Linked DNA regions of Homo sapiens. The protein of the gene in region 1 interacts with the protein of each later gene in a pairwise test. Each region holds a gene or a part of one and is shown in the gene's direction. Other genes may lie near its edges.

Evidence for each region.
Region 2: the proteins of HID1 (region 1) and CBS interact in a two-hybrid assay, tested with the Homo sapiens proteins (one large-scale study listed by BioGRID).

What each region holds. Positions count from the first base shown.
Region 1 is NC_000017.11:74,955,470-74,959,280, reverse strand, and holds part of HID1 (protein HID1), read left to right. Parts: intron 1-229; coding exon 230-370; intron 371-517; coding exon 518-608; intron 609-802; coding exon 803-954; intron 955-1,061; coding exon 1,062-1,140; intron 1,141-3,324; coding exon 3,325-3,489; intron 3,490-3,811. UniProt on the Homo sapiens protein: May play an important role in the development of cancers in a broad range of tissues.
Region 2 is NC_000021.9:43,055,479-43,058,861, reverse strand, and holds part of CBS (cystathionine beta-synthase), read left to right. Parts: coding exon 1-28; intron 29-454; exon of another isoform or gene 455-571; intron 572-608; coding exon 609-717; intron 718-1,974; coding exon 1,975-2,059; intron 2,060-2,762; coding exon of another isoform or gene 2,763-2,804; intron 2,805-3,383. UniProt on the Homo sapiens protein: Hydro-lyase catalyzing the first step of the transsulfuration pathway, where the hydroxyl group of L-serine is displaced by L-homocysteine in a beta-replacement reaction to form L-cystathionine, the precursor of L-cysteine.

The sequences.
Region 1 (3,811 bases):
GAGTCTGCAGTCTAGTGGAGGGGCCAGGGCTGTCCACAGCTATGAGGGACTCCGCTTCCTGAGGCATCGCCCCAGGACAGCTATGGGTGATAGCATCTGGGCCCTCTGGCTCTGGAGGTGGGATCTGGCTCTGGGGGATGGAGGGGGGGATTTGTTGGGGGCCTGGGCTGGGAAACTGGAGCTGCAGGGATTGGGCTGGACAGGCCCCCTGCTCTGCCCTCGCCCCCAGGACTTCCAGTTCATCCTCAAGGGTATAGCCCGGCTGCTGTCCAACCCCCTGCTCCAGACCTACCTGCCTAACTCCACCAAGAAGATCCAGTTCCACCAGGAGCTGCTAGTTCTCTTCTGGAAGCTCTGCGACTTCAACAAGGTGGGCCAGCCTCGAGGGGCCCTGCAGGGAGATGGAGAGCAGCTGCCCCAATAACCCGGGGGCAGGGACAGTGTCAGACTGAGGGGGGTGGGGCAGAGCTGCCCCTCCCTTGAACTCAGCCCACTTGGCCCCTCCCCGCACCCCTAGAAATTCCTCTTCTTCGTGCTGAAGAGCAGCGACGTCCTAGACATCCTTGTCCCCATCCTCTTCTTCCTCAACGATGCCCGGGCCGATCAGTGTAAGACCAGGGTGGGGGTGGGATGCTGGGGGCTTTCCTGGCGGCGAGGTGGAGGGCTGGCTATCTGCCCTGACTCCCAGGAGCTCAGGCCTGGCACTCTGACCTCCTAGGAGGGAGGCCTCCAAAATGGTCACTGCCTGGGCCCCTCCTTCCCCCTCCCACCCGAGTGACCCCTCCCACGCCACCTGCCGCAGCTCGGGTGGGCCTGATGCACATTGGTGTCTTCATCTTGCTGCTTCTGAGCGGGGAGCGGAACTTCGGGGTGCGGCTGAACAAACCCTACTCAATCCGCGTGCCCATGGACATCCCAGTCTTCACAGGGACCCACGCCGACCTGCTCATTGTGGTGAGGGGGCTCGTGCGGCCGGGCCCAGGAGGTGCAGGGGTGGTGTCCTCTTGGCTGAGTCTGGAGGCAGCGGGGACCCCACGGTGCCTCTGTCCCTCCTGGCACAGGTGTTCCACAAGATCATCACCAGCGGGCACCAGCGGTTGCAGCCCCTCTTCGACTGCCTGCTCACCATCGTGGTCAACGGTAGGGGCCCGGAGCTTGCACTCCCCGCGCTCACCACCAGGTGGTGTCAGGCCACAGGCCAACCTGCCACTTGCTCCAGGTTTCAAGCCCCTCCAGCCCACAGAAAGAACGCAAGCTTGTGTACCCTTCATAGTAGCCACATTAAAAAAAAAGGGTGACAACAATTGAATAATATGTTTTATCTATCATCATCTCAACATGTAGCCAATATGAAAATTACTAATGAGATATTTAATATTCCCTTCTCACACTCAGTCTTGTCGCCCAGGCTGGAGTGCAGTGGCACCATCTCAGCTCACTGCAACCTCCGCCCCTTGGGTTCAAGCAATTCTCATGCCTCAGCCTCCTGAGTAGGTGGGATTACAGGCGTGTGCCACCACACCTGGCTAATTTTTGTATCTTTAGTAGAGACGGGGTTTTGCCATGTTGTCCAGGCTGGTCTCGAACTCCTGACCTCAGATGATATGCCCACCTCAGCCTCCCAAAGTGCTGGGATTACAGGCATGAGCCACTGCATCTGGCCTTTTTTTAAAAAAAAAAAATTTAACAATTTTTTTTGACATCTGAAGGAGGTTAGCCCAGTTTATGGGAGCCACTGGTAGTCCGATAACATTTTTACTTTATTTATTTATTTATTTTATTTTATTTTATTTTTTATTTTTAAGACAGAGTCTCACTCTCTGTTGCTCAGGCTAGAGTGCAGTGGCACAATCTCCATTCACTGCAACCTCCCAGGTTAAGTGATCCTCATGCCTCAGCCTCCCAAGTAGCTGGGATCACAGCATGTGCCACCACAACTGGCTAATTTTTTTTTTTTTTTTGTATTTTTAGTAGAGACAGAGTTTTGCCATGTTGGCCAGGCTGGTCTTGAAGTCCTGGCCTCAAGCAATCTGCCTGCCTTGGCCTCCCAAAGCGCTGGGGTTACAGGTGTGAACCACCACACCCGGCCATATTTCATTTTATTTCTAATTATAGTGACGGGATCTCACTATGTTTCCCAGGCTTGTCCTGAACTCCTGAGCTCAAATGATCCTCCTGCCTCAGCCTCCCAAAGTGCTGGGATTATACAGGCGTGAGCCACTGTGTCTGGCCTCTTGTGTGTTTCATATGTGCAGCACACGTGTTAGGACTAGCTGTGTTTCAAGCACGAAATGGCCACACGTGGCTGATGTCCACTGTGTTGGGCAGTGCAGGTTTGGACATTTGGAGTCACAGTGTATGGGGATGTGGAGGCCCCACCCTTTCTGCCTTTGTCCTCCCTGTCCAGCCCCTACCCCCACCCAGCAAGGACTGCACACAGCTGCTGGGGAGAGGAAGCAGAAGGAGCCAGGCTCCCTGGGGTTCAGGACCTAGCAAGGCAGGTGGCCATGGGCTGGGGCAAAATGCCTTCAGTGTGAACATCTTTTGGAGAGGATGGTTGTGGCTAGGGGTGGCTGGTCTGTCTGTGTTCTGGTTTAGACTGCAGGGTGGGTAGTGTGCGGTGGTAGAGGCCTCTAGCTGGGCTGTGAGCTTTGGGGTCAGGACTGTCCCTTCCCCTCCTGGTTCACTCTCTGGCTCCATCTCACAAATCTTAACTGAGCTGGTTCCGAGAACACACTTGTGACCAAGACAGCCCTGGTCCCTGCCCTGTGGAGCCCTCAGCCTAGTGAGGGAAAATGACACAAGACAAGGAAGTGTTCAGATCAGCATGGAACTTCAGTCTGGGTGTGCCCCCAGGGTTGGGTCCCAAAATACACCTCTAGTGACATGGCAGCTTGACGTTCTAGAAAGATTTAAAGTCTTGAGTTTGTATCCCTGCCCGATCATTTCATTACTGGGGAACTTGGGCCAAGTTTACAACCTTCTCTGAGCCTCAGTTTCCATGTCTGTAAAATGGGGATGATCTTGTCTGTGTCCTGCCTCCCTCGTGGTATGGGGGGGACTGGCATGGGTGGGATGTGTATGGCTTTATAAGCAGGACAGCTGTCTTCATGGTCGAGGGGTGAGGGTGGGGCCTAACTGCCTCCCAGGACTCTGCACACAGTATGGCCAGTGTGGACTCAGCCTCTTAGGGCCTTGGTCGTCCTGGCTCTGCAGGGGGCAGGGAGGGATTGAGAGCAGGAGCCTGTTGTTCCACCCCGGCCCAGGATGTGCAGGGATGGCTTGGCTGAGGGGCCCAGGAGTGAGCTGACCCCTCCCTTACAGTGTCCCCCTACCTCAAGAGCCTGTCCATGGTGACTGCCAACAAGTTGCTGCACCTGCTGGAGGCCTTCTCCACCACCTGGTTCCTCTTCTCTGCCGCCCAGAACCACCACCTGGTCTTCTTCCTCCTGGAGGTCTTCAACAACATCATCCAGTACCAGTTTGATGGTGAGGCACCAGCCTGAGGCCCTGGTGGTCAGGGTGGCCAGCGGGCCTACTTCCTACATAAGGGGGGCACAGCCCAGGAGGTGGCCTCTGGGAGGTGCTGGCCTGCTTGCCTTCTGCCCCCAGTTCATTCATTCAGTGTACATTTATTGAGCATCTACAGTGTACCTGGGTGCAGGGGATGCAGTGGGGAACAAAGCTTTGCTTCTTGCCCTGTGGAGCTCATAGCTGGGGATGGAGGCAGGGAAGGAGGCTTCAAACAGATGATGGACATCTGAAATTTTTTTTTTTTTCCCGACGGCGTCTCACTCTGTCGCCCAGGCTG
Region 2 (3,383 bases), on another chromosome or scaffold:
ACCAGGCGCCCGTGGTGGATGAGGCGGGGTCAGTCTCAGCCCCTGCTCAGAGCTCAGTCCTGGGTTCTGTCTGCCCAGCTCCACCCCGTCAGTGTCACTGGACAGGGCAGCCATGCAGACCCTGCAGCTGGGCTGATAGGCCCGCCTGGGCCGCCTCATACAGACGTTCAGGGCATTGGAGGCCCCTTGCCGGTCCCTGAGCAGCCTGGGGCAGGGCTGCCGTGCTCACTCCAGGCCCTCAGACCTCAGCCCACCCACCCTTTGTGTGCAGGCTGTCCTGGGCCCACCTGGAGGTCAGGGGAGAGATGCCCCGAGGACATGTCTGACAGCAGAAAGCCTTGGCACACATGCCCAGTGACCACTGAGAGCCCCACGTCGCGGAAACCTGACGGCTGGTCACCCTTGACCCTGGCTGAACGGGTCCAAGGACTCTTGGTTTCTTTCTCCCCACCAGGGCCCAGACTGGTTCCTGCCGCGTGTAGGCTCGTGGCAGAGGACTTCCATGTGTGGCCAGAGAGCGCTCCTCCCTGGGGCAGCTGAGCGTGTGCCCCACCGTCCTGGGAGGGGTGAGGTATGAGCGCTGACCCCTGCCTGCCCCCGTCCCACAGGGTAATCCTGGGAATGGTGACGCTTGGGAACATGCTCTCGTCCCTGCTTGCCGGGAAGGTGCAGCCGTCAGACCAAGTTGGCAAAGTCATCTACAAGCAGTTCAAACAGGTACCCAGTCACCTACAGGCAGCTCAAACAGATGCGCAGTCACCTACAGGCAGCTCAAACAGGTGCCCGGTCACCTACACGCAGCTCAAACAGGTGCGCGGTCACCTACAGGCAGCTCAAACAGGTGAGCGGTCACCTACAGGCAGCTCAAACAGGTACCCGGTCACCTACAGGCAGCTCAAACAGGTGCGCGGTCAGCTACAGGCAGCTCAAGCGGGTGCGCGGTCACCTACAGGCAGCTCAAACGGGTGCCCAGTCACCTACAGGCAGCTCAAACGGGTGCCCGGTCACCTACAGGCAGCTCAAACGGGTGCCCGGTCACCTACAGGCAGCTCAAACGGGTGCGCGGTCACCTACAGGCAGCTCAAACGGGTGCCCAGTCACCTACAGGCAGCTCAAACAGGTGCGCGGTCACCTACAGGCAGCTCAAACAGGTGCCCGGTCAGCTACAGGCAGCTCAAACAGGTGCGCGGTCACCTACACGCAGTTCAAACAGGTGCGCAGTCACCTACACGCGGCTCAAACAGGTACTCAGGCACTTCGGGACCCCAGAGGGTGCCAGAGTACTCCAGCCTCGAAGGCGGGACACCGCGCTTCCCGTGTGGGGGTGCTGGGTCCTCGACCCTCAACACCACTTAGGCCGAAGCTGGCTGCACCCCTCAAACCATGAAGCTGAGAAGCACCCACTTTACAAGTGCAGCAGCCGGAGAGCAGGCTCTCATCAGTGCAGGCTCATCCACACCAGCCGTGTTTTGGGGACTTAAGGAGGTCATTCGCGCTCAGAGGCTGTCCCGGGCACCATGCGGCGTCTGCCGGGGTCTTTCTCCTGCCCAGCCTCATTTGCCTGTGCATGCACTTGGTTATCCAACAAGAGCTAGAACATTCTGGGAGAAGCCCACGGTGGCTCCTTGCCGGGCTGGTCAGACTCCGTGGTTGTCCTGAGACACCCACCCTCTGCTGCCCTGAGGGTGGCCCAGGAAAGTTTGTGTGACCTTCCACACGGATCCCCTGGGACATGCAGGTGTGGCTCTTGACACTGGAAAGGCTGAGGGTTCTGCCCAAACCTAGGAGTGAATTCGACTTCTTTCCCATCTCACACACACACCCGAGACGTCACCCGAATCCACGTATTTCCCACGTTCGGCTGCCACTGCCTCCCGGGTGGGCTTTGCAGGACCCACCATCGCATCCCCTCTCACTCCACAGAAAACTCGTGGGGCCATGTTCCCCCTGCCACTGACCACGCTTCCCTTGCAGATCCGCCTCACGGACACGCTGGGCAGGCTCTCGCACATCCTGGAGATGGACCACTTCGCCCTGGTGGTGCACGAGCAGATCCAGTGTGAGTGGGGCCCTGCTCTGTGCGTGGGGTTCTCACTGGGGTCAGGCCACCAAGCCTGGCCTCTGCCATGGGCAGCAGCTGGGCCCCCCATCCCCTGCGGGGTGTTAGGGGAGTGGGTGGTGCCGACCTTCAGTGACACCCAGTCTTTATGCCTGGGCCTCCCACATGCCCTGGGCTGGTGGGCTGTACCTGTGATTCCTGCAGGGACCCCTCATCAGGCCACACTGGGTAGGGCCCTTTGTCCAGCATGCAGAGGCTCAGGAGTCCAGGCCCCTTGCCTCCGGGGAGGCCAGCAGTCTTGGGGATTCTCAGGGACAAGCCCAGAAACATCTAGAAGGGTTTCAAGTCCTGACCCTGGCATTCGGAGGGCTGCTCTGAATGGAAGCCTCATGTGGGTCTCACAGGAGCCACTGATGGGCTGTCCTCAGAGCCCCGCTCCCAGCAAGCTCATGAGGTTTTGCAACTCCTGAGCGCATCCCCGGGCGTCCCCACCACATCCCCACAGGCCAGGAGAGTCGCTCGCAGGTTTTGGGTCATAGATGGCAGCCCTGGGCCTGGGGCCCACAGGAAGAGTTGGGAGGGGCCCTGGAGCCTGGAGCCTGCCCACCCACCAGGCCTGTGTGCAGGGGGTGAGCGCTCGGTGGCTGAGGCTGGTCCGTGAGGGCCCCAAGTCTAACCCCATCTCCCGTCCTTGGCTCTGCAGCGCAGGACCAGGCCTGGGCAGGCGTGGTGGGGGGGCCTGCAGGTAGGTATCACCCACCCCTCAGAATGGCTCTCAGGCTCAGATTCACAGCCTCCCCATGGCAAATGGAGGCCTTCCAGGGTCCTGGACCCACCCCCAAGCTTGGGTAGGAGGGATCCCCCTCTTAATCTCACATTTACTTGTGTTTGAACATCTCAGAAAAAAAAAAAGATGCAAATTCCAATGTCAGGGTCCCCAAATCAAGTCTTCCTGGAGCATGTCCACGCTTGTCACCACCGTCTGTGGCTGCTTTCAAGCACGTCAGGGCTGCGTGCTCATAACAGAGACGGCACGGCCCCCAAGACCTAAAATACCACCAGCTGGCCCTTGTCGGAAAGTCCCCTGGCTGGCCCTAGTCCATTGACTCTGGGCCGAGCTGCCAGGGCCACAGAAGCCTGCGGCACTCAGGGCTCCCAGGGCTCCCTTCTCCAACAGTTGCTGTGCCTCCGTTTCCCCAAAATGCAAGGAGCTGATCTCATCTGTGTTCCCTATCTTTTCCTGGGGCTCTAAGTGGGCCACCCCAAGGGACCTCTGCCTACAAAGAGAGGAGTGACAGCCGTGGCGGAGTTGGGACGGGCTCCG